Homo sapiens: one gene and its partner. The protein of the gene in region 2 purifies or fractionates together with the protein of the main gene of each other region. This does not show direct contact. Each region holds a gene or a part of one and is shown on either strand. Other genes may lie near its edges.

Region 1 (4,298 bases), on a different chromosome or scaffold from region 2:
GCACCTGAGACTATTGGGGCATGGCCCAGACTCCCCCACCATGGCCCCCTGGGGGCTCAAACTGGTAGCCTGACCTTCCTGTGACCTGAGGAGCCGGAGGGAGAAAAAGGAACCAGCCCTTGCCGCCCCCAACTCTGCATGGCTGGTTATGGTCCAAGGGTTATGGCTCTAGGGTGGCTGGTCCCCATGGAGCTCAGGCTGTTGGCTTGGGGAGGGGCAGCCACTGCCTACCCCTTGGAGTCTGTGCCCAAGGCCCGACAGAGCATTAATGGGGCAGGAAGGCAGGTGTGTGTGGGTAGCATTGGAGGCACTCGAGCGCCAAGGCTGAGGGTGCTGAAGGCAGGTGGGCGGCTGGGGCAGAATCCTTTTTCCCAGGGACAGTGTGTTCTCCTGATGTCCTGTGATTGGGCCAAGGTCTGCGGAGGGAAGCTCTCCCACAAGCTGGGCAGCTGCACCTGAGGGGGGGGTGTCATGGGCAGAACACTGGGTGGAGGGGCCAGTCTTGCCATCAGCAGCAAGGAGGGGGCGGAGATTCCTTTTCTTTTTTTTTTTTTTGTTTTTTGAGATGGAGTCTCGCTCTGTCGCCCAGGCTGGAGTGCAATGGCACTATCTTGGCTCACTGCAACCTCCGCCTCTCAGGGTCAAACGATTCTCCTGTCTCAGTAGCTGGGATTACAGGCGCTTGTCACCACTCCCGGATAATTTTTAGTAGAAACAGGGTTTCACCATGTTGGTCTGGCTGAGTCTCGAACTCCTGACCTCGTGATCCACCCGCCTCCGCCTCCCAAAATGCTGGGATTAAAGGCGTGAGCCACCGCGCCCGGCCAAGGGGGCGGCCATTTCAAGAACACATTCCTCTTCCCTCCCGGTGCGCCTGAGAGGAGGCGCTTCATGTCGAAGTCAGCCCTGGGATGCAGAGAGTTGGGGGGCTCAGGGTCCTGGGATGGTCTCGCAGACACTCCTAGTTCTTCGCCTGCCCCTTCTCATCTCTATTTCTGTGGGGGCGGGGAGGGCAGACAGGAACAGGGCTACCCTTGAAGCAGGTTGGGGGAGGGGGATCCTAACAGGACCCCGGTGCCTGTGGACAGTGACAGGGTCGACAGCTCTGGGGCTCCACTCTCCTTTCCCTGAAGACCCCAGCTGCCTCAGTGGCTTCTGGCTTGCACCCAGCACCAGCGCAGATGCCCCGAGTGCCGGCGGCTCGAGGTCGGCCCGCCCGTCCGGACCTGTTTCCTCCTCTGCTCTCCTGCCAACGCCTGCCCATCTCTGTTTCCCCCACGTCCAGCACGCGCTTCGGGGACGGCCAGAGCCACCATGCCGACTGGAGAGACTCTCCTGATTCGGGTCCTTGTGTCCCGGGGCCCGGGCGGCTTCGCGCGGCGACAACCGGCGCGGTGGGACCACCGAGACGCCGGGACCTCCGCGCGGCCTAGAGTGGTCCCGGAAGTGCCCGCGGGCCGGGGGCGGGGCTCTGGGTGCTCGGGCGGCCGCGGGCTCCGCGTCAGCAGCTGCTGTGGAGCCAGGCAGCGTCGGCCGCGTCGGCCGCGGGTTGGAGCAGCTCAGGTGCGGCCCCGCCCCGCCCGCCTGCGGCCCCGCCCCGGCCCAGGTGAGCTGCCCCGCCCCGGCCCAGGTGAGTGGCCCCGCGTCCGCCGGTGTGACCTGAGTCCGCCTGACCACCTGTCCCTCCGGTGGCCCTGGGTGTGCGTGTCCCCAATCGCGGGGAAGCCTGTAGGGGCGCCACGTCGCCGCCTGGGCAGCGTGTGCGGGTCCGTGGCAACTCTTGGGCCCCCAGCCAGGAAACCTTGACTGCACTAAGAGTTTGCAGGGTGCCCAGGCCCTAGGGACTCTCTGGAGGATGGGATGACAGATGCAGGAGGACCCGGAGAAGGCCCCGACAGAGGTGGGAAGCATGGAGTTCCAGATCTTTGCATTTTCGGTCCAAAAACACTTATCATGTTGTGGGAGACAGATAAAGGGTTGCCAACTTTTTTCTGAGTGGAGACTTCAGGGTGTAGGGGCTATATAGTGGGAATGGAAAACCTCTACGGAGGGAAGTTTGAGAACACCAGGACTTAATGGGTGGGCGGAGGAAGAGTTGCAATCTAAAGATATCAAGAAAGAGAACTTGGAAGCCATGAAAATTGGGAAGAAAGCGAGGGTGGGGATGGGGTTGGGGGGTAGCTCAAAGCTTTCATGCACCTAGGTAGGCAATGTGGGCGGGTGAAGGGATATTGTCACATCTTCGTTTTTCAAGAGAAAGCCAGAAACCTACTGAGTTTTAAATATTGGTAACTAAGGAAAATGAACAGGAAAAGCCAAACTCTTCGAGAGCCAAACATAACATAGCAGGATCTTCAGGCTGCCAATTTGCAACCTCTGAAATGAAGGGTTTTGAGAAGGAGGTATTGGAGAGCAGTGCCAGATGGGGTGGGAAGGTGAAGACCGAGAAGAGAGGGATTGGCAATAAGGAGGTCATAGAATGCCAGAGCTGAGGTCCCAGCTGAAATCGGAAACTCGAAATTTGTCGTGGTGCCATACATAGTTGTATGATTTTTCTTGGCAACATTTAACAACTTAGGAGGAACTGGCCGAGAAGACTGGGACTTAGCGGCTAGTTGCAGCCGGACGAGGAGGTGAGGAGCATGGTGCTAGAGCGTGAGAGTTGAAGTGATGCGCATAGTATGGAGAGTCTAAGCTGGATGGAGAAGGGGTGGAGCTAGAAAAGGAGAACTACAGTAAAAATGGCTTGGATTTCATGAGGTCGAAAAGCACAAATTGAGTGAGAGAGCTGGAAGAGTTGGAGATTATGGGTTGCTGAAGAGGAGGGGGAGGGTGAGAGGAGTTGAAGTGATCAAAGAATTTTTGAAAATACTTTAGGGCTGGGCGAGGGGGCTCACGCCTATAATACCAGCACTTTCGGAGGCCAAAATGGGTGGATCGCATGAGCTCAGAAATTCGAGACCAGTCTGCACAACATGGCGAAAACCCATCTCTACAAAAAATACAAAAATTAGCCAGGTGTGGCACGTGCCTGTAGAGCCTGTATTCCCAGCTACTTTTTTTTTTTTTTTTTTTTTTTTTTTGAGACGGAGTCTCGTCCTGTCGCCCAGCCTGGAGTGCAGTGGCGCGATCTCGGCTCACTGCAAGCTCCGCCTCCTGGGTTCACGCCATTCTCCTGCCTCAGCCTCCCAAGTAGCTGGGACTACAGGCACCTGCCACCACGGCCGGCTTTTTTTTTTTTTTTTTTTTTTTTTTTTTTTTTGAGATGGAGTCTCGCTCTGTTACCCAGGCTAGAGTGCAGTGGCGCGATCTCGGCTCACTGCAACCTCCGCCCCCCAGGTTCAAGCGATTCTCCTGCCTCAGCCTCCCGGAGTAGCTGGGATTACAGACGCGCTGTAATTTTTGTAATTTTAGTAGAGACGGGGTTTCACCATCTTGGCCAGGCTGGTCTTGAACTCCTGACCTCATGATCCACCCACCTCGGCCTCCCAAAGTGCTGGGATTAGAGGCGTGAGCCACCGCGTCCGGCCTTTTTTGTATTTTTAATAGAGACAGGGTTTCACCGTGTTAGCCAGGATGGTGTCCTAGCTACTTAAGAGGCTGAGATAGGAGAATCACTTGAACCCAGGAGCCAGAGGTTCCAGTGAGCTGTAATCACACTACTGCACTCCATTCTGGAAAAAGAAAATACTTTAGTTCAGTGCTCTTTTTTTTTTATATCCAGTCGGTCTATTGGCTGAAAAATCATTTAAAAAAATCATTTCTGGGCTGGGCGTGGTGGCTCACACCTGTAATCCCAGCACTTTGGGATGCCAAGGTGGGCGGATCACCTGAGGTCAGGAGTTCGAGACCAGCCTGGCCAACATAGTGAAACCCCATCTCTACTAAAAATACAAAAATTATCCGGGCCTGGTGGCGGGTGCCTGTAATCCCAGCTATTCAGGAGGGTGAGGCAGGAGAATTGCTTGAACCCAGGAGGCAGAGGTTGCAGTGAGCCGAGATTGGGCCATTGCACTCCTGGCTGGGCAACAAGAGTGAGACTCCACCTCAAAAAAAAAAAAAAATCATTTCTGCTGGGCATGGTGGCTCATGCCTGTAATCCAGCACTTTGGGAGGCAGAGGTGGGAGGACTGCTTGAGCCCAGGAGTTCAAGACCAGCCTGGGCAACATAATATTATCTCATCTCTACAGAAAAATTAAAAAATTAGCTGGATGTGTTGATATGCCCCTGTAGTCCCAGCTACTTGAGAGGCTGAGGTTGGAGGATCAGTTGAGCCGGGGAGGTCAAGGCTGCAGTG
Region 2 (3,500 bases):
GGCTCACGCCTGTAATCCCAGCACTTTAGGAGGCCAAGGCAGGTGGATCACTTGTGGTCAGGAGGAGCTCGAGACCAGCCTGGTCAACATGGTGAAACCCCGCCTCTACTAAAATACAAAAATTGGCCGGGCATGGTGGCATGCACTTGTAATCCCAGTTACTCAGAGGGCTGAGGCAGAACTACTTGAACCCCAGAGGCGGAGGTTGCAGTGAGCTGAGATGGCGCCACTGCACTCCAGCCTAGGCGAAAGGGCGAGACTCCATCTCAAAAAAAAAAAAAAGCTGGAACCAGTACACTGGATGGCCAACATTAGCACTGAATCTTAATTCTTGACACCAAACCTCTTTCAGGACAAATATTCCATCAAAAACCTTATGAAAAAACATGGGTCAGATTGTCAATTTCACCAGTAAGGATACACACTGAAGCTGATGTGAATTTGCATGTTATAGCAAATGCTGCAGGAAACACTGATGGTTTCAACCATTTTATTGACTGGTGAGTAGCTACACTGCCATCTTCTTGTAACCCTTTTTTTTTTTTTTGAGACAGAGTCCTGCTCTACTGCCCAGGCTGGAGTGCAGTGGCATGATTTTGGCTCACTACAACCTCCACCTTCCAGGTTCAAGCAATTCTCTTGCCTCAGCCTCCCAAGTAGCTGGGACTACAGGTGCCCACCACCACGCCCGGCTAATTTTTGTATCTTTTTAAGTAGAGACAGGGTTTCAAACATTCTTTACAGAGAGAAATTTCGTTATCACACATTTGGGCCAGGTTTCTGTCATGTCAGCACTTGAGGAGGCTGAGACTGAAGGATCACTTGAGGCCAGGAGTTCGAGACCAGTCGGGGTAACATAGTGACAACCAATCTCTGAGCCATGATTGTGCCTCTGCACTCCAGCCTAGGCAACAGAGACTCTGTAACAAAACAAAATCAGGCCGGGCGCGGTGGCTCACGCCTGTAATCCCAGCACTTTGGGAGGCTGAGGCGGGTGGATCACAAGGTCAGGAGTTCAAGATGGTGAAACCTCGTCTCTACTAAAAATACAAAAAAATTACCCGGGCATGGTGGCGGGTGCCTGTAATCCCAGCTACTCAGGAAGCTGAGATGGAGAATTGCTTGAACCCGGGAGGCGGAGGCTGCAGTGAGCAGAGATGGTGCCACTGCACTCCAGCCTGGGCAACACAGCGAGACTCCATCTCAAACAAACCAAACCAAACCAAACCAAACCAAACCAAACCAAACCAAACTCACAAATGTGTCCTTAGAATGATGGTCCCACAATGTATAGCAGGAATATAATTCTGATATATTTTGTACTCATATGGCACTTTAATTATTTCCAGCTCTGTGCAGGCTTTCAAACATATAACACTGTATTTTGTGTATGCCTGGGCCTGCACAAATCTACCTGTTTCCCAACTTTAACTCCTGCCCAACCTTACCCCAAAAGGTTAATGGGGCCCAAACCTTTAGGTCTTGCCAGCTGCACCGACTTGACAAATTCTCCACAATAAGTCTGTACTCTGTGCGAGTAGGAGGGCCATATTTATCTCGGCCACTTCTTCTATAACCATATCCACCTTTGGAAGGTTCAAATAAATAAGATTATTTCAGTGGAAGAAAAGGAAAAAAAATGACACAGCACACACCCCCCCTTAAATATATTATTTACCCCCACCCCAAACAATAGCACGTTTTAACTCTATTCCCACCCTTAATTCTAAAATAGATTTTTAAAGAAGCAATCAGCTAAATATAAACATTTAATTTAAAAAGTTGTAAGTATACATATTCATTAATATTTGCATTTAAGATTAACATGCATAAATTTAAAACTATTAACAATTTAACAATTTAGAAATAAGTAACCAAATTACTAAATCAGTTACTGGTGTTACTCACAGTGATTAAACATTTTGTGAATATTTTATATGGAAAAAAAAAGATTTTCAGGCACCTATTTCAGTTTAATCTCATCTGTGTCTAACCCTTGGGATCCTCACCACCCAGGTCTAATGGGGAAAGGTTGCGGTCGTCACATGGCTTCCTGTTTTTGGTCAGCCAAGGGCCACAATGGTTCAAAGAGCCACGCATGGAAAGGTAACCCAAGGTCAGCAAATGGAACAGGCAGTCATCTTAGCCTCAAAGGATTCTTTTAATTAAAACATTGAGGTCTTTGTTAAATCTATGTTAAACAATTGCATTACAGAGAAAAAAACAACAACAACACAAACACACATCATTAAACATATTTATAAAGTATTATAAACAAGAAATTGTCATTAGTTTAATTAAAATTAAACATTATCAAAGGCTTATTTGTAATTCTACATTTTTAAAAAAGATACATAATTTACAAAATAGCTTAAACATCAATACGTTTAAATGTAATATCAATTAATTACTTTAAAAATTAGCATGATAACAAAAGCACGTTACTGATAAAAGTATGCCCTTTGAATGCTTACTGCGTCCAGAACCGTAACTGCCATCTCGCCGTGGGCCGCGGGCATGCTCAACAATTACTCGCTCACCACAAAGGTCTTTGCCATTCAGTTCATAAACAGCATCATCTGCATCACGCAGATCATCAAACTCCACAAAACCATATCTAGAAGAGAGCAAAGAAAATACTGGTTGGTACCATTTTGACATCCAGCTTCACTAACATTAAAGAGAAAGCAATGAGGTTCATGCTTAGCAAAGGTTAGGTGGATTTTGCAAACTAAGGATCAACTTTGTCTTCTCTTCAGGTGAAACCACTTTGCTTTGTGCCAACAGGCACTGAAAGAGGTAGGGAGACTTCTCAAAGTAGACTCCTATCTTTCTAGGAGGAGGCTGGCTACATACACAGGACACTTCTTTTGTTTCCCAAGTAGTTGGTGGCAACTGCAAAGACAGGGATGCTTGGTATAAGAATCCAAAATATATAATGCTACAAGACATATAACGCTCTTTCAAACACCACATAAAACTCATCTTTTTTAGCTTTAAAAGTGGTATCTTAGAGAACAATTAGACCTACATTCAGGCACTGTGTAATAACTGTTGAATCATGTGAAAGTAAAAAACTTTTTTTTAAGGTTCCTGTTCCTCTACGTAAACACATCTGTCACATGTGATTATCAGTGAAAAAAAGACTGGAGCTGTTTACTTCCCTGTGAGATTCCAAATTCATTTCCATGAAGTTTTAGAATAGGATGGAATTCTCTGAAATCTGTATACAACTCGTGCAAACTTCTTTAAATGGTATTGCTACATCTTTTCCAGCCAAGAGGTTTGGTGGCTTAACATATAACCAAAAGAACCCCCACCATCCTACTAATGCCTATTAAAGAGTACAATTTATATAGCTAAAGTGCAAAATTTGTAAGATACTTATAAGCAAGGTTATACAAATGCCCTGTAAATTATGTTTTCAAGAAATATTTAGTTTGGTCTGACACAGCTGTGAAAAGTCCAGCTTTGTGACCATTGCCTATATTTAAAAACCA

Evidence for each region.
Region 1: the proteins of SRSF4 (region 2) and ZNF70 purify together in Homo sapiens (affinity purification with mass spectrometry; one large-scale study listed by BioGRID and IntAct). This does not show direct contact.

Annotation. Positions count from the first base shown.
Region 1 is NC_000022.11:23,748,313-23,752,610, reverse strand, and holds the start of ZNF70 (zinc finger protein 70), read left to right. Parts: upstream 1-1,498; 5' UTR 1,499-1,900; intron 1,901-4,298.
Region 2 is NC_000001.11:29,157,901-29,161,400, forward strand, and holds part of SRSF4 (serine/arginine-rich splicing factor 4), read right to left. Parts: intron 2,896-3,500; exon of another isoform or gene 2,662-2,895; coding exon of another isoform or gene 2,618-2,661; coding exon 2,475-2,617; intron 2,111-2,474; exon of another isoform or gene 1,964-2,110; intron 1,587-1,963; coding exon 1,474-1,586; intron 1-1,473. UniProt on the Homo sapiens protein: Plays a role in alternative splice site selection during pre-mRNA splicing. Represses the splicing of MAPT/Tau exon 10.